Regions from separate parts of the Homo sapiens genome. Here region 1 is linked to region 2. The links come from fine-mapping of genetic effects on gene expression. A gene starts in region 2. The other region holds a variant in brackets. All regions are shown on one strand. Distances are between the middles of the regions. Region 1 overlaps PPP1R37 (protein phosphatase 1 regulatory subunit 37). Region 2 holds the start of ZNF296 (zinc finger protein 296).

The links. PIP is the estimated chance that this variant, and not a neighbour inherited with it, causes the effect.
Region 1: its variant is fine-mapped to the expression of ZNF296 in putamen (GTEx, PIP above 0.99). The same link has a PIP of 0.9 or more in nucleus accumbens.

What each region holds. Positions count from the first base shown.
Region 1 is chr19:45,120,690-45,129,080 of GRCh38, reverse strand. All of the region lies in intron 1 of PPP1R37 (protein phosphatase 1 regulatory subunit 37), which reads right to left. It also overlaps the pseudogene EIF5AP3. Among named protein-coding and RNA genes, the nearest start is that of PPP1R37, 32 kb to the right of the region's middle. RefSeq lists enhancers at 2,937-3,076, 6,984-7,173. The variant G/A (reference allele first, on the strand shown) is at 3,773.
Region 2 is chr19:45,071,308-45,079,522 of GRCh38, reverse strand. It overlaps ZNF296 (zinc finger protein 296), which reads left to right and starts at 3,045. Exons shown (of 3, transcript NM_145288.3): 1 at 3,045-3,447; 2 at 3,661-3,810; 3 at 6,943-8,023. The coding sequence starts at 3,150. The coding sequence ends at 7,922. It overlaps GEMIN7 (gem nuclear organelle associated protein 7), which reads right to left and starts at 263. Exons shown (of 3, transcript NM_024707.3): 1 at 146-263. RefSeq lists an enhancer at 1-16 and silencers at 186-445, 2,849-3,258, 3,349-3,588, 3,919-4,228.

The DNA of each region.
Region 1 (8,391 bases), 49 kb before region 2:
GCAGTCTCAGAAGATCACTGCTGCCACCACTGTCACCCTGGGAGCCAGTTCTTTTGCCATGGCCTTGACTGCAACAGCTGCCTCCTCTGTCATGGCAGACAGCACGGTGATCAGGGTCCCTTCTCCACAGCGGTACTTTTGCTCATCTCCTTGCCAAGGTCTCCTCTGGCAGACGAAGAAGGTCCTCTCGCACCTCCCTGCTGTCCTGGAGCAGTGAGGGGTACCTTCCTGGATGCCAATCAACTGGGAGTCATTCCTTTTGATGCTGGGGACACCCACATTATAAGGTGACAGGCAGTTATTTTTATATTTCTTCCCAGTAAAGATGTCAATACCAACCAGGTGGACCTTGACGCGGCTGTGCTTGCCAGTCTTCCAAGCAGACATCTCAAAGACCTTACAGGGCCAGCCTTTGAGCACCACGAAGCCAGTGTTACATAATGCTGAGCACTGCATTGGGAAGGAGGCCGAGGCCCCTGCATCTCTTGTCTCGAAGTCCAAATCATCTGCCATTTTAAGAGGCTTCGATTCCAGCTCTCGCAAACACACTGACTCAACCTTGTCTTCTCGCTGCAAACCCAACCGCTGCCTCTGGGCCTGCTGCTGCCGCTGCCTCTACCACCCTGCCTTGACTTTAAACACACACAGCTGCAGGCATCACAATATTTTGCTTAAATGATCAGACTAGGCTCTGCAGCAACTACTCAACTCTGCCTTGTAGCATGAAAAGAGTAATAGATAGTATATAAACAAATGAGCCTGGACATGTGCAAATAAAACTTTATTTACAAACTCTGTCGGCTGGCCTGGGCTGTGGCTGCTGTGGATTGTCATTAGCTAAGCTCCATCAGAGATCCTTCCAGAAGGACATACAATAAACTAGGTGACTGCTTTTAGGAAGGTGAGCTGGCAAAGCCAAAGGAGGACAGGGAGAGAGAAACTTCCTTCTCTCTATATACATTTTTTAAAATGTTTAATTTTATTAATACATAATTATTATACATATTTATGGGGTACATGTGGTATTTCGATAAATGCATACAAGGATTGAGTCAGGGTAATTAGCATATCACCTCAAACATTTATCTTTTTTTTTTTTTTTTTTTGAGATGGAGTCTCGCTCTGTTGCCCAGGCTGGAGTGTAGTGGCACGATCTCGGCTCACTGCAACCTCTGCCTCCCGGGTTCAAGGGATTCTCCTGCCTCAGCCTCCCTAGTAGATGGAACTACAGGCATGTGCCACCACACCTGGCTAATTTTTGTATTTTTAGTAGAGACAGGGTTTCACTGTGTTAGTCAGGATGGTCTCTATCTCCTGACCTCATGATCCACCCACCTCGGCCTCCCACAGTGCTGGGATTACAAGCGTGAGCCACCGCGCCCGGCCCAAACATTGATCATTTCTTTATGTTGAATCTCTGTCCACCTTTTTACATCTTTTGAATACTGAGGCACATACAGGTCTAGTCATAAGCCGCATAAAGCCATTTCAGTCAATGATGGACTGCATATGCAGCCGGTGGTCCCATAAGATTTCCCACTATATTTTTACTGTCCCTTGTCTACGTTCATATACACAAATACCTACCACTGTGTTACACTTGCCGAGGGTACTCAGCACAGCCACATGCTGTGCAGGTGTGGAGCCCAAGAGCACTAGACTATTCCAGGTAGCCCAGGTGTGCAGTAGGCATGCCACCTAGGGTTTTTTTTTTTTTTTTTTTTTTTTGAGATGGAGTTTTACTCTTCTTGCCCAGGCTGGAGTGTAATAGCATGATCTCAGCTTACTGCAACCTCCACCTCCCAGGTTCAAACGATTCTCCTCCTGCCTCAGCCTTCCGAGTAGCTGAGATTACAGGCACACGCCACCACGCCAGGCTAATTTTGTATTTTTAATAGAGATGGGGTTTCACCAGGTTGGTCAGGCTGGTCTCAAACTCCTGACCTCAGGTGATCCGCCCATCTAGAACTCCCACAGTGCTGGGATTACAGGTGTGAGCCACCAGGCCTGACCAGGCCTAGGTTTGTGTAAGTCCACTAGGATGTTCACATGACCATGAAATCACCTAACGACGCAGTTCTCAGAATGTGTCATCATTAAGTGATATAGGACCGTATTACTACACAACTCACACATTAAGGTGAAAGAAACCAACATCACCAGCCCCTGAGCAGCCTGGCCACAGGCCGTGCTCCTGGTGATGTGCTGACTCAGAAGGCTCCCATTCCTGAGGCTTCCGGCAGATAATCAGATAATCGATAGGACCTGGTCACTGCTACATGCACAGGGATGGGCAGGGTGGAGAGAGAAGCTGGGAAGAACCTGGCTTCAAGCCTGGGTGACTGGATAGCTGGTGGGGTCCCAAACCAGGAAACACCGCAACACATGGAAATAGAGATGTCATTTTCTTTTAAGAGCATGGAGGCAAGTATTATTTACATAATCTCAAAAGAGAAAAGAAACACTTATTGTGGTATTTTCCAGAATTCTCAAGCCGGGGAGGTAGGGCGAGGGTGCAATAAAGTCACACCTGGAAACCAGGCCTGAGCTCTTGTTCACGACAATAAATAACCACCAACATGGCAGAGCCCCATTTCCCCACAGCATGCGGGCCTCGAAGCCAGGCGCCTGGGTTCCAATCCCTGCTCCGTCGCCAACAGCACAGAGCAGTGACTGCCCTGGGCCTCCCTGCTGCATCAACAGCACCTTCCCAGGGAGGGCTTGGTGAGCTCACCCAGCCTGGCACTCAGCACCACAAGGCACACAGGAAGGGCCCCTGTCCCTGCCCTCCAGAACCGTATGTTACAGTTGCTGCCACCACTCTGTGCCTGCCACATGCACCTACCCCACAAGGGGGCACCATCACCATCGTTCCACCTCACAGGCTCTGCAGGGAAGGTCCCAGTTGGGAGTCTCATGGCAGGTGAGTGACCGGCCCATGTGGGACAGCGTCTCAAGGAGCAGCCTGGGAATCCGGTGCTGGGCCTCTCTGCAGGACTCTCCATGCTTGTCAGCCCCCACGACTTGGGCACCATCCACCCCTATCTGGATGGTGGGCTGCACACCCTCGGGAAGGAGCCTGGGGCACAGGGGGTGTGGTCCACCTTTCCTGAAGCCTGTGCACTTGCAGCAGCCCCACAAGTAGAGATTTCAGGTCAAGTGAGAAACTCATCCCACAGGGAGCTCTGCCTTGGCGTGGGGTCTGGGAAAGGACGAAGAGGTCTGAGGCCAGAATGGCCCACTTCTCTTCCTGTCTTCCCCTGGGTGGACCAGCCTTGGTCACCCAATCTCTCTCACCCCAGGAGCCTGGATAGGCCTCTTCACTTTACCTTGACTCCCCGCTGTCCTCCCCAAAGGTTCTAGGAGTGGATAGGTGCCCCGTCCCACAACCTCTGTTACAATGATCGGTCAGGGACAGGAAGGTTACAGAGCCAGCCACAGCCGGTCCTACGCCCTGAGATGGAACTCTCAGGAAAGAGGAGCTCTCTTCCCACTAGGGTGGTTAAGACTGCATCCCATTTCTAGAGCTACTGGCAGCCATCCCTGCACCCATCAGGAGGGAACAGCCTTCCGCGAATGAAGCCAGCTCAGAGGAAAGCCAAGCTCAGATATTTTATTTTTTAGATGGAGTCTCGCTGTCGCCAGGCTGGAGTGCAGTGGTGTGATCTTGGCTCACTGCAACCTCTGCCTCCCAGGTTCAAGCAATTCTCCTGCCTCAGCCTCCTGAGTAGCTGGGACTACAGGCACGCGCCACCACACCCGGCTAATTTTT[G/A]TATTTTTAGTAGAGACGGGGTTTCACCATGTTGGCCAGGATGGTCTCCAGCTCTTGACCTAATGATCCGCCCGCCTCGGCCTCCCAAAGTGCTGGGATTACAGACGTGAGCCACTGTGCCCGGCCAAGCTCAGAGATTAAAGAGATATTGTTTGATAAAGAGATACTGTGCCTGACACCACACTATTCAGGACCCTTCAGACCCATAAGACAACAAATCTCCTCTTTTTGCTTCAACCATTCTGCCTCAGGCTTCGAATTTAGGAGAATTCCAAGCTTCGAATTTAGGAGAATTCCGTCTTGCCTCTCATCTGGTAAACATTTCCCAAAACCTATTTTTTGGGGGGTCCCCATCTGTCACCCAGGCTGGAGTTCAGCGGCTCAATCATAGCTCACTGCAGCCTTGCACTCCTGGGCTCAAGTGACCCTCCCACCTCAACCTCCCAAGTAGCTGAGACTACAGGCACACCCTACCATGCTTGGCCAGTTTTTTTTTTTTTTCTTTTTTTATGTAGAGACCGGGTCTCAGTATGTTGTACAGGTTGGTCTTGAACTCCTGGGCTCAGGTGATCCTCCTGCCCCAGCCTCCCAAAATGTTGGGATTACAGGTGTGAGCCACCAAGCCCAGTCCCCAAAACCTACTCAGGCCAAGCTCTGTGCTGGCACTGGGGAGACAGGGATGGCTCTGAACTGGTCCCTGCCCTCCAGGGGTTCTTGTCTGGCAGGGAAGGAGCACACAGATGATGCGTGAGAGCGAGGAGGGGGCCGTGCACGCACTGGACTGAGGAAAGGCCAGGCAGACAGGTAGAGTCAGGTCTCAGGGGCCGCCCTTCAGCCTTGTCAAAAAATCTGGACCTCTCTTGGGAGAATTTCTAGGATCATTGGGGGAAAAAAAAGAAAAGAAAAATAGACAATCTGGACCTCTCCACTCATGGGGCACTGTGCTCTGGCCACACCCAAATTCTTCCCGTCCCCCGAAGGGCCCGGTGCTTCCCAGCACCTCACATTCTCCCTCCCCTTTACACATTACACGGTACATGCTCTCACTGCTTACTACTTCTTCAATTCTCAGCTTAGGGATGCCTTCTCCAGGAAGCCCTCCCTGATCCCCACGGTAGGTCAGGCCCCACCCTCTGGGCTCCCCGTCTCAGCCCTGTCCCCTCTGAGTTGTCACCATCTGGAGACCTGTGTGTCTCCCCCACTGGACTATGAGTCCTAGGAAGACAGCATGGGGTGGTCTGTGGTCCACACTGTTACCCCAACATTGCTCCACATGGGGCCAGCCAGGCACAGAGAAGGGGCCAAGACAGGCACAGAGAAGGTGAGTGAGCGGACAGAGGAGAAGCTCACATCTGGCCACTGCAGTAGACCCTGAAGGTAGATGGGGATGTTCTGGCCAGGAAGGGCCCGGTCTACTCCATGCTTAGGAAGATTACTGCGGGGACTTGGCCCAGTGAACAAGGAAGCCTGCAGGCAGGGGAGAGGGATGCCAGGGCCTCAAAGCTGCAAGAAGCTACTCATGTAGTGAAACACGTTCTAAAATTCTAAAACATGCCCTAAAGCATTCCCTGCACAGAATGGTGCGAGCAGCTCTTTACTGAACCCCTTCCCTACCAGGCACTCTGCCAAACACTCGATTACTGCATTTAATCCGCATCATAATCCTGCAGAGTAGAATTTCCAGCCTCTACCACGCTACAGAGGGAATGGTCTTCTGAGGCCACACCTGTGGGAGCGGACAGAGGGAGGTTTGAACCAGAGCTGTCTGTCCTGCATCAGTACCCTGAAGCCCTCAGGCCCCGGCTTCAAACCGGACAGACAGGTTGTGGGAGCCTAGAAATGCAGCCTTCTCGAACTTCAAGACAGGGAGGCTGCCAGAGAGACTGTCTTTCTCTGTTGGGTTTCCAGGATGTGGAGAGCGGGTCCTGCCCTCAGCAAGGATGCGCTCGTAGGTTTCTTCCTGGTGCCTGCAGGAAGACCCAGCCTCCAGAGGCCCTTCACAGGTGCCAGTGCTGGGCGGGAGAGGTGTGGGCACCTGGTCCAGCCTGGGGTGCACTCACCCCTGGGACAGCCCCCAAATGCCTCCAATAGGCAGTGGCCCAATCCCCCACAAGCCAGCTCTGTCCCAGAGCCTTCTGCACAATCAGTGAGACAAATCCAGGGGCAGTGGCAGAACAGCATCAAGGCTATGATGGAGGGAGGGAGGGAGGGGACATGGAGGCGGGGAGGATGGCCAGGCTGGGATCAGCTGCAGCGGGAGGCATCTGGAAAAGTCTCAGAGATGACAAAGATGCAAAAGGCGTCTCTGGCAGAGGGAACTTTGTGAAGAAAGTGCAGGTGCAGGAGGCTGCCTGATGCATCTGGCAGTGAGCTGCACAGATCGGGACCTGGAGTGTGAGACGAGAGGGGTCAGCAAGGAGGCTGGAGGGGTCAAGGTCCTGCTTATGGAGCACGGGAGGCAAAGCATGCACATGGGAGAGCTGCATGGCCAGACCTCACTTGGGGGTGCTGGGGAGGGGCTGCTACAGTCATTGAGGTCCTGATCCTTGCCAGTGGCAGAGCCATCTGGACACAGTGCCTCAGGGTCTTTGCACCTGTTACCCCCTGCCCAGAGCACCCCTCTTCCTCACACCCCAACGGCTCCTTCCCTCCCTGCCTGCAGGTCTTCACTCCCAAGTCACCTCCTCAAAGGCCTTCCCTGGCCACCCTCCAAAAAGTCAGCCCCTTTATCACTATGAATCCCTGCTTCCTTCTCTAGGTGGCACTTCTCATGACCCAGCAGGAAGCGTACTGATCTGTGCATTTATGCTATAATGAGGGGAGAACTCTTACCCCTTTTGTTCACTGAAATATCCCCAGAAGGGTCTTTACTGGGCACACAGTAAGTGCTCAATAAATATGTGTTGACTGAAGGAACAGGAAGGTGGGGCTGGGGTGGGTCTCTGGAGTCAGCACAGGTGTGAGTCCCCAACTCAGACAGGGCCAGCTGGGTGAACTCAGGGAAGGTCCCTTCTTGTCTATGGCAGGCTTTTGGGTGCCCTGCACTCAGGCAGCGAAGGTGTGCACGTGATGAGGTCACCAATGGGTGTGCTCAGCCCAGAGCCAGCCTGGGGCAAATGCCTTCTACGCACCTTCACTAGGTGTCCAGTTCCGTCCTCTGCTCCCACAATGCCACGGCCTCAGTTGGGGGGCAGGGGAGGGACAGAACCACACAAGGCCTCCTGGGGCCTGAAATAGGGAGGAGGAGGCAGAAGAGTACCCACAGAGCTTTCTGTGGGAACCCCACACCCCCAAGGCCTCGCTACCTCTGCGGATGTGCTGCTGCACGTCTCTATCCCTGCAAAACCACACGTCTACACTGCCCACGTGGAGACCATCCTCACTCCCGCCTCCAAGCCCTTCCCCAGGCTGCTCCACACAGAATCAGAGTCTGATCAGTCATGTAAGCCCAATGCAGTGGGCTTCCCAAGGGCAGGTATTTCTCAGGGGAGTATCTTTACTGAAAGGGGCCCCAGGGCAGCCTGATATGTAGTCAAACCCAGATTTCTAAGTCCAATCCTGGAGCAACCACAGAATGACGCCCGTGGAGGCCCCAGCACCCCACCGCGGGCATCCAGAGGCCCCTCAAGAGCAGGGCTCACACCAGCCCCTGGACTCCCTGTATACACTGCACACAGCTGCCCACACATCTCTCAGGTCCTTGCGTGAGGACCCTGTATATTCACTGCGTGGCACTGGTCAGGTTTCCTGGGTAGAAAAGGCTCTTCCTGCCTCTAACCTTCTTCCTGTATTTGGGGAGCTCCCTACCTAGGGAATCCAGTGGCCTCAATCCCGCCCATGCGAGGGCCCAGCTGTCCTCCTGCCTGGTGACATCCTCCCCACACATTCCCTTGCTACAAATTCTGCAGGGGTCTGTTTCTGGGCTTACAGCCGAGGGCCATGGCTGACACATGCACTGCCTCCCATGGCAGGGAGACAGACGCCCTGAGGAGGAAAGTCCCTCATCCCAGAGTGTGAGTGTAAATGCAGGTCTGTGCTTCTGACCCCCTCTTCCAGCCACTGCCATGCATTTCCCAACAGTAATCATCCCCACGCTCTCCCACCACTCCTACAATCCCCAGTGGCACTCAGCAGAGAGGCATGGGGGAAGAGAACAAACACTGCTTGGGGCCCTTCTACTGTGCTTTACCGGTGGAGCCGTAACTTTGCGCCCACTCCCAAAACTAAGCGATTGACAAACTCGATCTCGTTTCCACTTCCTAATGGCCCTGAGAAATAGAAATTATCTCCCCAACTTTCCAGGGGACGCTTAGAGATGAGAAAGGACCTGACCAAGGACATGGTTCCGTCTCAAAGGCAATTTGGCAAGACCAGTCAAAAGTACAAATGTGCGGGGCACAGTGGGTCACGCCTGTAATCCCAACACTTTGAGAGGCCAAGGCTGAGGCAGGTGGATCACCTGAGGTCAGGAGTTGGAGACCAGCCTGGCCAACATGGTGAAACCCCCGTCTCTACTAAAAATACAAAAATTAGCCAGGTGTGGTAGCGGGTGCCTATAATCCCAGCTACTTGGGAGGAGAATCGCTTGAACCTGGGAGGCGGATGTTGCAATGAGACAG
Region 2 (8,215 bases):
AGGGGAAGTTTTTCTCCTTCTCCCTTCTCCTCACCCCACCCGCGTGGGGCATTCCCGCTGCCGGCGATCGGGATCAAACAGTCCCTGATAGGAGCGTCTGGGGACCAGAACGTCCCTCCAGCCGGCGCTGCAGGCGCGGTCCTACCTCTTTCCGTCACTCAGGGCGTTGCACTGGGGTGAGCGTCCAGAGCTGGGGCCGGGGAGAGGGAACCTGCTGGCGACCCCCCACCACCTTGTACTCACCGAGGTCCGCGGCTACTGGTGTCCCCACTTCCGCCGGCGCCCCCGCTGCAGAGGCCCGGGCAGGCCGCAAGCCGCGGAGCCTGGGTTCCGCCCGCGCCGCCGCCACTGCCCCACGTGGTCGCGGGCTGGCTCGCAGGCTTGGAAGCCAGCACAGCCCGGGTCGCCACCTGGCCCGCGGCTTTGCGGGGCACTTGGGACCGATCTTCCTGCCTGCGAGTTGGGGGCGTCTGGGATGCCCATTTTAGGCAGGAAGAAACTGAGGTTCAGAGAGGGGAAGACTTCCTCCCTGCTGGGTTAAGGGCAGAGCTCGGTCTTTGCATCCCCATCCCCCTACACATACCCACTCCTAACCCCTTGCTTCCAGTGGGAACCCCCGCTCCTCTACAGGAAACCTGGAGATCATGGTTTCAGATGCCGCATACTAAGAAAGTAGCTGGGCTGGATCAGAGGCGGTCATTTTGTCCTCCAGCTCTCCCTGCAGTCCCATTTTACAAAGGGGGAAACTGAGGCCTTGAATGGGGAATATGAACCTCCCTATTCCAGGCCCAGTCAGAATTCACTTTCTCCTTGCGGGGTCCTCTTTACGCAGGGATCCTGTGGGCCTTTGCTTTCCACTAGATCACCAAGGCCTAGTGCCAGGTACACAATTTGGTGCTCTGCAAATATCTGTTGAAAGAATATCATCAGACACATAGTAGGTGCGCAATAAATATTTGTTGACTTAACTATGAACGAGTAGGGGTTGTATTTATGAACAAGACAGACTCCCATCCTGCCTCCTAGAACCTACGTTCTAGTGGGGGTAGAAGGGACAGAATAGGGTAAAATGAGCAAATATGTAAACAAGATCCTTCAGGGTTTGATCAAAGTGATGTATAAAGAATAAAATAGGCCGGGCACGGTGGCTCACGCCTGTAATTCCAGCACTTTGGGAGGCTGAGGCGGGTGGATCACCTGAGGTCAGGAGTTCGAGACCAGCCTGGCCAACATGGTGAAACCCTGTCTCTACTAAAAATAGAAAAATTAGCCGGGCATCTGTAATCCCAGCTACTCCGGAGGCTCAGGCAGGAGAATCACTTGAACCCGGGAGGCGGAGGTTGCAGTGAGCTGAGGTCGTGCCACTGCACTCCAGCCTGGGCAACAAGAGTGAAACTCCATCTCAAAAAAAAAAAAAAAAAAAAAGAGTAAAATAAGGGCAATGGGATAGTGGGTGGCTGGGTTGCCATGGAACTTAAAATTGGGTGGTCTGAGGCTGAGTGCAGTGTCTCACACCTGTAATCTCAGCACTTTGGGATGCTGAAGCAGGAGGAGCGCTTCAAGCCAAGAGTTTCAGACCAACCAGGGCAACAAAGCGAGTCCCTGTCTCTATTTAAAAATAATTTTTTTTGAAAAATTAAAAATTACAAAAAAAAAAAGGGTGATCAGAGGAGGCGGCAGTGAAGAAGAAACCACCTCAGATAACCCTCTAGTTCCAACCTGCCCTACCTCCTTTGACAGATGGAGAAAGTGAGATCCAAGAGGGAACTGGGGACAGATGGAGGTCATGGAGTGTAATTTGCAAGGCCTTCAGCAGGGTGGGGCTACTTTAGATACTGTTGGTCAGGGCCCTCTGCTCTCAGGAGGACAATGGAACCCAGACCTGAATAACAATGTGCAGAACTCCAAGAGATCAGCATCTGAAATCAGCATCTGGGCTGAGGACAGCTGGGGGAGGACAGGTTCTTGCCCTGACCTCAGGGGGCTTGCATTGGGTGGGGGAGAGGACAGTCCACAAGCCGTTCTATACTGTCGTGCAGTCGGTGCCAGGAAGAAAAGAATACTCATCAGGGATTGAGGGTGGGGCAGGGTGTCGATGCCACTTCAAACAGTGAGCAGACAGAACTGCTTAGGGGAGGGAAGTTCAAGGAGGCGGAGTGGAGGCAGGTGAGCTGCTTGGCTATTTGGTTTTAATGGCGACTTCTGGTCTAGGAACAGAGTCGATGTGTATGATTACAGTCCTCCTCTGCTCAAAACCCTCCTAAGGCTCCGGTCTCAGGAAAACCAAAAGACCTTAAAGCGATCAAAAGATTGCTTGGATCTGCCCCCATATTTTCACTGAACTCAATCCCCAACCCGTATTGCCTCTCCCTTTCCTTGTAATTCCTCAATGCCCAGGCCCACTGGCTGGGCTTCCTTCCCTCCAGCCTCAGCTCCACCATGCCCTTTCCCATCATAGGGGAGAAAATTGAATCCCTCAACCCCAGTAACCCTCTCCGCCTTTCCAGCTTTCTTTTGCTCCATGGCACTGGTCATCATGAAGGGCCATCTATATTTTACGTAATTATGTTTATAGTGTCTTCCCCCACCGTCTGAACTCCGTGCAAACAAAGATTATCTTCTGTTTATTCCCTCCTGTATTCTCAGGGCTTCAAACAGAGCCTGGCGCACAGGAGGCACTCAGTGAATGCTTGCAAAATGAATTTTTATTGTAATGCATTTAATGAAATAGCCCAGATTACTATCAGGCACCTAATAAGAAACGTGACCGACTATTTTTCTCGCTTGGGGGTGCGTGTGGGCATGCCGTGTCTCAGTTTCACCCGCCCTAAAACGGGATCAGGGATAGCTGTTTCAATGCCTTGTGGGAACTCGGTGTGATTAAATTTGGTCACTAAGCCAAACGCACGGGACACTGCCTAGATTGAGTTAGGCCGCCGTCAGGGCCCCAGCAGGGCGGCTCGGTCCCCTCCCATGAGCCCCGCCCTGGTAGGCGGAGCCACGGGCCCGGCCAGCACGTGTAAGAGTTCGCGGCGGGTCGCCGCAGTCACTCACCTGAGCGCGCACGGTCCGCGCGTCCTCCGCTCGTGCGTCCTCCGCCCGCCCGCCTGCCTGCCTGCCCGCCCGCTCGCTCGCCCGGCCCGCGACTCATGTCCCGCCGCAAGGCCGGCAGCGCGCCCCGCCGAGTAGAGCCCGCGCCCGCCGCCAACCCAGACGACGAGATGGAAATGCAGGACCTCGTCATCGAACTCAAGCCCGAGCCAGACGCGCAGCCCCAACAGGCCCCAAGGCTGGGGCCCTTCTCCCCGAAGGAGGTGTCCTCGGCGGGGCGGTTCGGCGGCGAACCCCACCACTCCCCTGGCCCCATGCCCGCCGGGGCCGCCCTCCTCGCCCTCGGCCCGCGGAACCCGTGGACCCTGTGGACGCCGTTGACCCCGAACTATCCCGGTGAGCACCCCGGGCCCTGGGCCCAGCCTCCCTTACCTTTGACCCTCGGGTGGGACCCTTCCCTTTGGGCATGGGCCCCTCGCCCTGCCTTATCTCCTTCGCCCCGTCCTGCCCCTCAGGCCCCCTTCTGACCTTCGGTTTCCCCTCTCCTTCAGCACCCTCAGCCCCCATCCTGGCCCCACCCCACGCTCACCACCCGCTTCCTCCCTGCAGACCGCCAGCCCTGGACCGACAAACACCCAGATCTGTTGACCTGCGGCCGCTGCCTGCAGACCTTCCCGTTGGAGGCCATCACTGCCTTCATGGACCACAAGAAGCTGGGCTGTCAGCTCTTCAGAGGCCCCAGCCGCGGCCAGGGCTCAGGTGAGTAAAGCCGGGTGCAGTCCCCCTCTCAAGTTCGAGGGCTGGGCTTCCTGCTGGAAAGGGGCTGGGCTGGACGGCAGGGCACTGAGCACTACTTCCCCTTTCTCGCTCCCCATCGGGTGCAGCCTAGGCGTGGCCAGGGCCTGCCCGTCCTAGGGCAGGGACCAGTGGTGGCGGTGGAGGGGGGGCGGGGGGGGACTGGGCAGGGAAGGAGGGCCGCCTACAGGGTGTGGCCAGCCCCAGAAGACTAGCCCGGGATTTTGCCCCCCCCAACACACACCCCAACCTGGTTTCACTTCTCCTTCCCCTTGGCCAGAAATAACTGGCCAGGTGGCTGGACCAGGGTGGCAGTAGGAGGGGACCTCTAGGGAGGGCAGCGGCCGGGGGGAGGGGGAGTGGAGGCCAGCTGGAATGGGGAGGTTGCCACCCCCTCCTGTCTCTCTCTGTCAATTCTGATTGAGGTGCTAGTACAGCTGAGTGTTCAGAGCCAAGGAAGGGGCTTCTGGCTTCCCTCGGTGATGGAATCTCCCAGCCCCGCGTGCTGGGAATCCCCTGGTTTGAGCGAGCTCCCGGGTGCTGGACACCCGGGTTCCTTCTCTTGGGAGGGAATTAAAAGCCTTCACATGGGGCTTGACCCTCGGTGAGCTTTTGGTCAGTGTTGGCTGCAGGGCTTAATCCAAACCTAGTTTCCAGCCCCCTGGCCCTTGCCCTTCTGAGACTTTTGAGAAGTGGAATTATTTAGGGTTGGGCCAGGGAGGGTCTGGTGGTGGGAAAGAGGAGGGGCTTGTGACTGATTGAATCAGCTTTAGAGCTGGAGCATGGAGAGTGGCCTGGAGGAGCGAGCGAGGGGCTGTGATGGAATCGCTGGAACAAAACACTACAGGGCTTGGAGAATCATGGGCACCTTGGTTTCACAGGCTCTGCTGTTTGAGCGCTTATGTGGACCAAAGCTCTCAACCATTCCCCAAGCGAGGTCACAACCACCCTTGAAAGGGAGGGGATCTCTAGGGTCCCTGAATTCTAGCAACTGAGGCACACAGAGGACTATGTCTTGCCCAAGGTCACACAATTAGGGAGCAGAGAAGTCTGAATTTGAATGCAGGCCTGTGCTCTTGACCCAGGACTGGTTGTATCACAAAGGTTGTCCCATCCAAGACTCTAGAATTTGAAAAATGGAAAGGCTAGTTCACCTAGGAAGTGTCCACTGAGAGTACCCCGAAGGTCCAGATAGAAATCCAAATTCAGGTTTGGGGGCTCAATTTGAGATCCATGCAGAGGGTGGGGGACCCAGGTCACTACCACCTCTTTACTAGGTGGCCGCTAAGCTTTCTCTGTAGCTACCCCATTATTTTGAGGTGGAGTCTTACTCTGTCACCCAGGCTGGAGTGCTGTGGTGCAATCTCAGCTCACTGCAACCTCCGCCTCCCAGGTTCAAGTGATTCTCCTGCCTCAGCCCTCCAAGTAGCTGGGACTACAGGCGTGCACCACCATGGCCAGCTAATTTTTGTATTTTTGGTAGAGACAGGGTTTCACCATGTTGACCAGGCTGGTGTCTCAAACTCCTGACCTCAGGTGGTCCACCTGCCTTGGCCTCCTGAAGTGCTGGGATTACAGGCATGAGCCACCATGCCCAGATATCTCAATTACTTTAAAAATTATTTTTATTAAACCAAAAAAAATTTTTTTTTTTGAAACAGAGTCTCGCTTTTGTCACCCAGGCTGGAGTGCAGTGGTGGGATCTCGGCTCACTGCAACCTCCGCCTCCTGGGTTCAAGCGATTCTCCTGCCTTAACCTCCCAAGTGGCCGGGATTACAGGCGCGCACCACCACACCCGGCTATTTTTTATTTTTACTAGAGACAGGGTTTCATCATGTTGGCCAGGCTGGTCTCAAATCCCTGACCTCAAGAGATCAACCCGCCTCAGCCTCCCAAAGTGCTGGGATGACAGGTGTGAGCCACCGTGCCCGGCCTAAACCAAAAATCTTATTCAAAAGCCTCTGCTCCCAGCCAGGTATGGTGGCTCACGCCTATAATCCCAGCACTTTGAGGGGCTGAGGCGGAAGGATTACTTGAGGCCATTAAGTTAAAGAATAGCCTGGGCGGCCGGGTGCGGTGGCTCAAACCTGTAATCCCAGCACTTTGGGAGGCTGAGGCGGGCAGATCATGAGGTCAGGAGATCGCGACCATCCTGGCTAACACGGTGAAACCCTGTGGCGTGGTGGCTGAGGCAGGAGAATGGCGTGAACCCCGGAGGCAGAGCTTGCAGTGAGCCGAGATCGCGCCACTGCACTGCAGCCTGGGCGACAGAGCAAGGCTCCGTCTCAAAAAAAAAAAAAAATAGCCTGGGCAACATAGCAGGACCCCATCTCTTTAAAAAATACTAAATTAAAAATTTAAAGCAAAAAAAAAAAAGCAAGCAAGCCTCTGTTCTGCCCTCTCCCCCTCCCCCAGTAGTCTGGATTGAAATCCCAGCTTCACCCCTTCCAAGCTGTGCAACCCTGGGGAAATGCCTCTCTGTGCCTCAGTTCTCCTGTCTGGAAAATGGAGATCTTATTTTCCTGTCCTGAGGGAAAGCCGGGCTATGAGCCATGGCTCAGCACCTAGCATGTAGGAAGCGCTTACTGAGTTAACATAACTTTTTAAAAGATTTTCAAACACATGGCCCAGCACAGTGGCTCATGCCTATAATCCCAGCACTTTGGGAGGCCGAGGTGGGTGGATCACTTGAGGCCAAGAGTTCGAGACCAGCCTGGCCAACACGGTGAAACCCCCATCTCTACTAATTAGCCAGGCATGGTGGCGGGCGCCTGTAATCCCAGCTACTCTAGAGGCTGAGGCATGAGAATAGCTTGAATCCAGGAGGTGGAGGTTGCAGTGAGCTGAGATCGTGCCACTGCACCCCAGCCTGGGCGACAGTGAGACTGTCTAAAAAAAAATGTTTTCAGGTACTTAGCACCCACTCCACAGATTTTTCGTGTCCACCCCTCCTCTGAGCGTCAGCTTCCTGGTCCTTCCAGGGTGTGTGTGTCTTGTTACTGCCAAGTCCTTTGCCCCTGCAGGAGTGCCTATCCCACAGAAGGTGTCCAGCTGGCAGCTGTCCGCACTAACACTCTGCCTCTTTTTCTTACCAGAACGAGAGGAGCTGAAGGCCTTGAGCTGCCTGCGCTGTGGCAAACAGTTCACAGTGGCCTGGAAGCTGCTGCGTCACGCCCAGTGGGACCACGGACTGTCCATCTACCAGACAGAATCAGAGGCCCCGGAGGCCCCGCTCCTGGGCCTGGCCGAGGTGGCTGCAGCCGTGTCGGCAGTGGTGGGGCCAGCAGCTGAGGCCAAGAGCCCCCGTGCAAGTGGCAGCGGCCTCACCCGGCGGAGCCCCACCTGTCCTGTGTGCAAGAAGACCCTCAGCTCCTTCAGCAACCTCAAAGTGCACATGCGCTCACACACAGGCGAGCGGCCCTATGCTTGCGACCAGTGTCCCTACGCCTGCGCCCAGAGCAGCAAGCTCAACCGCCACAAGAAGACCCACCGGCAGGTGCCGCCCCAGAGCCCCCTCATGGCCGACACCAGCCAGGAGCAGGCCTCTGCAGCCCCTCCGGAGCCGGCTGTCCATGCTGCTGCCCCCACCAGCACCCTTCCATGCAGCGGTGGTGAGGGGGCTGGAGCCGCCGCCACAGCAGGTGTCCAGGAACCCGGGGCTCCTGGCAGTGGGGCTCAAGCCGGCCCTGGTGGAGACACTTGGGGAGCCATCACCACGGAACAAAGAACTGACCCTGCAAACAGCCAGAAGGCATCACCCAAAAAGATGCCCAAGTCAGGGGGCAAGAGCCGCGGGCCCGGGGGCAGCTGTGAGTTCTGCGGGAAGCATTTTACCAACAGCAGCAACCTGACGGTGCACCGGCGCTCACACACCGGGGAGCGCCCCTACACCTGTGAGTTCTGCAACTACGCCTGCGCCCAGAGCAGTAAGCTCAACCGCCACCGCCGCATGCACGGCATGACGCCTGGCAGCACCCGCTTCGAGTGCCCCCACTGCCATGTGCCCTTCGGCCTGCGAGCCACCCTGGACAAACACCTGCGGCAGAAGCACCCTGAGGCGGCCGGCGAGGCCTGAGCCCAGGAAAGCCCCCCTCACTGTCCCTGGTACCGCTGCCAACACCCATTGACCTCCTCGTTTTTGCCCGCCTTCTCCAAGTAAATTTTCCCTTTTATTTACACCCGTCTGGACTCTGGCTTTCTTGGGGTGCATGAGGTGGGGCAGGAGGCTTCCCCTCCGTGGGGTGGACGGCTGGACAGACCGGTTTGGAGTGAGGGGGTGAGGGAACGGCCAGCCCCCAGTGCCTGGGGCGCAGCAGGACTGGCACAGAAAGCTGCGCTCCCAGTTCCTAGTGCGGGCGAGGCCAGGGC